Linked DNA regions of Homo sapiens: region 1 is reported to be linked to region 2. Evidence: microRNA targets listed by miRTarBase, many of them from high-throughput screens and not tested one by one. Region 2 holds a microRNA gene; the other region holds the end of a gene's coding sequence.
The links. Region 2 holds the annotated microRNA hsa-miR-933 (UGUGCGCAGGGAGACCUCUCCC, at 2,510-2,531, shown strand). A microRNA usually pairs through its seed, bases 2 to 8, with sites in the 3' UTR of a target mRNA and lowers its output. Matches are read on the target gene's strand: a 7mer-m8 pairs with bases 2 to 8, a 7mer-A1 pairs with bases 2 to 7 and ends in A, and an 8mer does both.

Region 1 (3,412 bases), not on the chromosome of region 2:
ATTAATATAACTATTTTTGCTTTTGTTTTCTTTTGGGGAAAACTAGGGCAAAGAAAATTTGATGTCCAGTGAATTAACCGTCAGAACAAGAGAACAGAATGCAGCGGTATGAACTTGCTTTTTGTTTCGGTTCATGCACAGTTTAGTCTCGGACATAAACCTAACTAAAATCAAATTTTGAATTTCAGCAGTTAAAAGTCACCATTAACAATTTTGTTTTCCCCTTCAAATAAAACAAAATATAACAAAAAAAAGACCAAACACCAAAGTGTTGTCAATTCATCGGTAAGTGTGTTAGAATTGATTTCAGCCATGAATGCCTTCAATGGCATCTACCTGGAGCTAAAACAAAGTATTCTTGTAGCCCAAACTCATGAAATGAAAACAAAGCATCTTTCATAACATGGTGTAAAGTAAGTATCCAGCAAACGTGAGAGGTGAACCCACATAAATCGGAAGGAATTTGTTAACAAAGACAGAGAACAAATTTTTTAAAAATCTGTTTTCACATTGTACATAAAAATGATATAAAAACAAGTGTCTATTTTTTCCTTATCCAGAGTGCTTAAAAACAAAACAAACAAAAACAAAAAAAAATTGGCTCTAGATGACTGTGGCAATTAAATAACTAAAATGAGTGATGAGAGCATAAGTTAATTAAGATTGAACACGACCCTCCTATTAATTCACTCCTTTGTTTTAAACATCAGAACTGATATTGTTGGGGCCAAAATTCTTAAAAAAGAGAAAACTTACGGAAAGAGAAGTAAAATTGTGGGTAAATGTGTGTGTGTGTGTGTATATGTGTGTATATATATGTATATATATATATACATATACATACATATATGAGTTGGAGATGGAAATTTGTTTTAAATATCTAACAGCTTATTGGCTGCACTTCCAAATCAGAGCAGAATAAAATAGAAAGGGAGAAATAAAATAAATTATACATAACTTACTAATCTGGGAACAGCTGACCATTATTATTATTATTACTATTATTATTATTATTTTATCATCATCATCATTACAACACTAGCAAAAAGAGGCAGTTCAAATGTAAATAAAGTCATCAAAAACAAACAAACAGAAAAACAAACAAAATGAAATCTCTGACATGCAGGATATGATCAGCTCCTCCAAGCAAAACCCCAGAGCAAGTCTTCTGAGAGAGAGAAAAATAAAAGGGATTCTTTTTTTATTTATATGTAAAAATCCAACTTTAGGGTGGTGTTTCGGGGGGTGAGATAGGAAAATGATGACTGGAGTGAAAACTATAGCACATCAAGCTACTAGTTGCAGTATTTACTATCTATCTGATACTTCAATACAAATAATGGCAATTGACTTGAAATGATTTTGCATTTATTTGTACAGGCCCTACAACTGCCTTGGCATTTGGCTGGCAAAATCTACATAAGCAGTCCCATCACATTCAGTTGTTGCTCTTTGCAAATACTCTGCTTGAACCAAAGTTGGACTTCAGTGGATTAATCTGACAGCAAGGGAAGAGCAGTGGCAAGGATCCCTGGGTGCAGCCAGGCTCCATTTTATTGGGCTGCAATGACTTTTAATTAAATCCTACTTTTTATGGCATGAACTACATATGGCCCACACTTCTGAAATGCTAAAGGCCTCCACCTCACTTCATGGAGGGGTGAAAAATACCTTATAAAATCATCAGTTTCATTTCCTGATCGGGAAAGGATGGAATGTTGAAGAAATAAGCTAATTCTATTTGTCTGAAAAAATGGCCAAATATATTCAATGAAAACAATGATTGTTTTGCTCAAAATATCAACAGGAAAAACAAAAATCACTAAGTAGCAAACGTTAATGGAACCAACTGACCAGGGAGAAAGGACATCTGGGAGCAGTTTGCTAGTAGCTTCCATGTTATACATGCACACCTCTATTACACAGGGCCACCTGATCCATCCAATAATAATCAGACATTTAAAAATATAATTTCTGAGCCCTATACTTGGTTAAGTTGTCATTTGAAGTGCAAAGTCAAGGTCAAGATTATTTCTAGACCAGTCACTTGGGAGGATGTGGGATTTCATCCCCAGATGTGGGTTTAACTCACAATGGTCCAACGTTATTCCTATTATTAGTACCATAATCACATACATACATACACACAAAAATCCAAGATCAGAAAATATTTTTCTCTAAATTTCTTATGTCTCTCTCTCTCTCTCTCTTTTCACCTGAGAACAGCACCTACAGTTTCCATTAAAAAAAAAAGTCAAATCTCACCAGCTGCTGGTATTTCAGGTTTTTCAAGGGATTGTCTAAGATTTAACACTGTCCTAACTTAAGAAGGAAAAGGAAAAAGTAAAGAGAAAAAATGAACTTGGTCAACACTTCAGTACAAATTTGGCACTTGCTCAAAGATGTAGTGTGGTGTGCAATAGATAAAGTCCTCTAAAGAAAATAATTGCTTATTTTGTGGTGGATAGCAAGGAAGTTAAAAACAGGCTCTTTTTCCCTCTTTCCCCTCATGCACAGACTTCCATCTTTAAAGTAGAGAGATGGAGAAGGTGGAGAGAAGTAAAGAGAAATTCATTTTTCTTTTTTTTCTGTCAGGTGCATTACAAAGAAAAAAAATGAAAGGAAAGAAAAAGAAAAGGAAAAAACCCAGAAACCCCAAAAAACAAAACAAAACTTTTTTCTTTTTAAAAATTGTAGCACAAAACAACAAAACACATTCACAAGCCACTTGTTGGCACTGTGTACCTGAGTGAGAATTTCTAGAACATTGTAGAACAAACAGCCATAAAGTTTATTTAAAAAAAAAAAAAAGTTGACGGGTAAGACTTCAGTGCTTGGATGTAGCAGCTGAATTACTGGCATTATTTTACCCATAGCTTATTTCAATCTCTTGTTGTTGATATTGTTGTTTGCTTGTTGTATTTGTTTTTTCTTTCCAAGCCTTTTGAGGCTGAGGTCTATTAGTCAGCTGATGTCCCAACTATTTAAGACTAACAGTTAAAGTAACAGTCAGTGTATGAGAAAGTTAATGTGCTTGGCCACTGGTAAGGATGAACCAGTTAGGGCTTCTTTAAGTCCTAAGGTCACAACAATCTTTTGACCCTTATCAGTTGGCTTGTCCTGCAATATGGTTTTCACTGTCACTCCCATAATCTACATCTGGATCATCCTCTTCCTCGTCGTACTCATCATAAATTTCTCCATTGATGTCCTCGGCCTGTATCTCTTCTTTGATATGTGGCTCCTCTCCTTTCACACCGTAAGTGCTCTGGATAACAGGCATCCCAGGCTCTGGGCTGCTAGACACGCTTGAGTGCTCCGAGGGCAGGTGAGGGGAGGGCATCCCAGCCATGGCGATGGCTCCAGGGTACACAACACCAGCAGTGGCAATGGGGATCTGTGCTTGTTGCCT
Region 2 (3,412 bases):
AAGAAGAGGTCTACAAGAAGTTTCCTGCGTTTGTAAAGAGAAGACTGTAAAGAATTTTAGGACTCTTGGGGATATTGAGGAATGCAAAAGTGAGAACAAAGATGGAAAAGGGTGGCATTTTATGAGGATATGAATAAGTAGTGAGACAAGTTCATGGAATCAGACCTGAATATGGTAACTACATTCATTTTGACAATGCTGAATGTTTTCCCCACTTGTAGAAAAACTATAGTAAACAAACTGCTGTGGAACTAGAAATATGTGGATAAAGTGAGACCCTTTGTTAAATGCCGGGCTGCCAAAATGCATATATAACAGATCGGCATAGTTTCCACCTGTTTCCTGCGCCTATCTTATTTTTTTTTCTCACTTTAGGTATACCCTCTCTTTAGAAAATTAGCTAAAACTGAATTATCAAAACAGATCAGAGTACTGTTCATATCACTAAACAGTTCTTCTCTTGTCTAAAAAGAACTGAAAGACTTTCTTTAAAATAATGTGTTTCTCGAATGCATCATGTAGATAACTAACTGCTTGACAACAGACTGGAGAAGTAGCAATGAGAAATTTAAAACCAAAGCTACTGCCCAATTGAATCAACACTGGAAAAAATTTCAAATGGAAAAACAATTTTTTTAAAAAAATCTATTCTAATTGACCCAAACTTCTTTTGAAATGTCGTAACATTTGCAGTTCTTTTTCTCACATTAGTTGTTTTGGGAGATGGAGAGAGAAGCATCTATTTAATCAATGCGTTCTAGACCTAACAATTGTGATGTCAATCAAACATTTTGTCCACCATTTCCATCATGAGTAATCTGAACTGTGAGGTTTTGCTGACATAATTAGTGTTACACTACAATGGCACTACTACATTACTGTTACTATATGGGGACGGTACTTTCATTTTAAGTAGGAAAGTGTTAATAATTTGGCTTAATGTTTCTTAACTAAAATTAGTTTTAAAAGAGGACTGAGTTGGCTTATACACATGTATGCGGTCCAGAGACCTACCTGTTAAAATGTCAATGCCATTACAATTTCACTTTTATGCCAGATATCATTCTTGAACTTCAGGCTCATTAACTCTCATACTATCCCCCAAAACCTTTCAACAATTTTGAGAGTGTATTTTATGTTAATATATAAACTAGTTCATAATTTTGTTCCAGACTAGAAATCAGTATTTAATAAATGGAAAAAATAAGACACTGAAAATCTTTTATTGAATAATGTAAATTCTCACAGAGGCCTCTGATCATACTTTTCAACTTGTGCCTATTTATTGAATAACCAACATCCTTACAGTTAATATTAAAATCTTTAAGTTGTGTGGGGTTTTTTGGAGGGGAGGGATGGGCAATTACCAGCAAACTCCGCCTCCCCCAAACCTCACCTAACCCGAAGCTCCCCGCCTCAGGCTCCCGGGGAGCCAAGGGGTGGGCTGAGGAACGCAGCCTACTTTTACCCACCTCCCTACCTAGTGCTGGGAAGTGACGGAAACGGAGACACCCGGCTCCTGGGGCTGGGCTCGGAGGACCCATCCTGCTTTCCCTCTAGCAGCCTTTCCGGAGCTCACCACCTTTCCTCCCCTCACACCGCCAAAGCCCTGCCTAGCCCTTCACCGCCGCCTGCACCCGCGCCCTCCTCCAGCCGACAGCCAATCACAGTCTTCCACAGCTCCGGGTTTACAGAAGTAACGCTCCTTGGGCCCTCTGGTCCCGCCCCCTCCAGAACTGCTTCCCGCCCTTCGGGCTCCTTGTCCAATCATGAGCGCCCGAGTGCTCTTTGATGCCCGTCCCCTCTACCCGCCCTGCCGAAGACCCGCCTTCTTCTCCTTAAGCCTGACGGAATCACCTGACTCGGAGGCGCTCCCTCAGAAGGAAGGCAAGAAGGGGCGTGTGGGTGAAGGGGAGGGGCGCCAGAAGGAAGGTGGGGATGCCGGGAGCGGGGCGAGCGGGCGGGGGTTGTCAGTCCGATCTCGCGAGAGAGGACGGAAGCCTGTGGGAGCCCGTGGCCTTTAAAGTGCCGTTCAGCCTTTTCCTCCAGGGGTGCTTTGTAAACACGGCTGTGCTCAGGGCTCGCGGGTGACCGAAAGGATCATGAACTAGTGACCTGGAAAGGTGAGTAACGATGGGCAGAGGTCAGCAGGGCTGGAGACTGTAGGGATACGGAGAAAGAAGGCGCTAACATGGCGACGTCGCTCAGCACAGTCCCCACCCCCCGTTTCCCATCACCTCGGGTGCTCCTGACGTGCTCCTTAGCCCTTGGGGCGATTGTGGCTGTGCTGCCACCTCGGCGGCCCGCGCGGTGTGGGCTTTGGGAACCTGACTGGCTGGGCCGGACCGTTAGGTAACCAGCGTTCGTTGTTCCGGCCCCTCCCTCTCGCGCGCTTTCCTAAGGCAGAGGAAAAAGGAATAACGGCTCCCTCTTAGACCCCTCCCTCCGAATTATCTTCACCCTACTTGGGTCAGTTCAGAGGTCCTCGGGGCGCGCGTCGAGTCAGCCGTGTGCGCAGGGAGACCTCTCCCACCCACAGTCCTTGGGTTGGGCGGGGAGAGGGCCCACTCTGGTCTCCCCACCCAGTATTCAAGCGATTGAGGACCGTGTATTGGTGATGGTGGCGGGGAGGAGGATCGGGAGGCGCGGCTGAAAATAGAATCAGGGTCCCTGGCTGCGGTGCAGCTTGAAGGAAAGAATGGTGTGGAGAACCTAGGAGCTGGAAGTCTCGGCCTTTTCCGTCCTTTCCGCCACCCTCACAATCCCGCTACCCCCAGCTTTTTCCCGGTGGGGCGGGGCTTAGGTGTGGGTGCAGACTGATTCTGGTATTTTCCCTTATTTTTTTTTTTTTAAATCTCTGGGTGGACAGCAGAGCGTATGTAAAGAAATAATTTGCTTTTCATCAATGCCCTAGGGACCAGGGCCGAAAGGGAGTGTGTGTACGTGTTTTCTATGTTCGCTCGTTTAACCGAACCTAGGAGGAAAAAGAGAGGAGGAGCTGGGAACTATTTTTGTGCCCCTAGGTAGTATAAAATTGGCTTTCTTTAATGGAGAGTCTTAAAACTGGTGAGGCCAAGAGCAAAACTACTGTGAATATCATGGAGTAAAAGAGATTACTCCTGATGGACCTTAGGCATCAGAAATTTTAGTGAAAGAAATGTTTCTCTTAAAATTCAACACCTATTTTAAATAGTGATGTAAAGCATTTCTTTACATGTACCTTCAGGTTTTCTAATGCTTTCCTGGCTATTATTTAACTGGTACTAAGGGATTGACTAATCCCTAAATTATAATGTGAAAGTTTAAATTTCTTAGAGGTTTTAAATTATGGAGACGGTCACAATGCATGCATTTAAGATATACATTTAAAATCAGAACAAAAACTGACTTTCTTTGAGCACACTTTTTGTCC

Region 1: miRTarBase lists SOX5 as a target of hsa-miR-933. The part of its 3' UTR that is shown has no 7-base or 8-base seed match.

The regions. Positions count from the first base shown.
Region 1 is chr12:23,531,113-23,534,524 of GRCh38, forward strand. SOX5 (SRY-box transcription factor 5) reads right to left here. Exons shown (of 15, transcript NM_006940.6): 15 at 1-3,410. The coding sequence ends at 3,107. Among named protein-coding and RNA genes, the nearest start is that of SOX5, 420 kb to the right of the region's middle.
Region 2 is chr2:175,166,761-175,170,172 of GRCh38, reverse strand. It overlaps MIR933 (microRNA 933), which reads left to right and starts at 2,464; the gene lies at 2,464-2,540. ATF2 (activating transcription factor 2) reads left to right here and starts at 1,970. Exons shown (of 14, transcript NM_001880.4): 1 at 1,970-2,123. RefSeq lists a silencer at 1,952-2,021.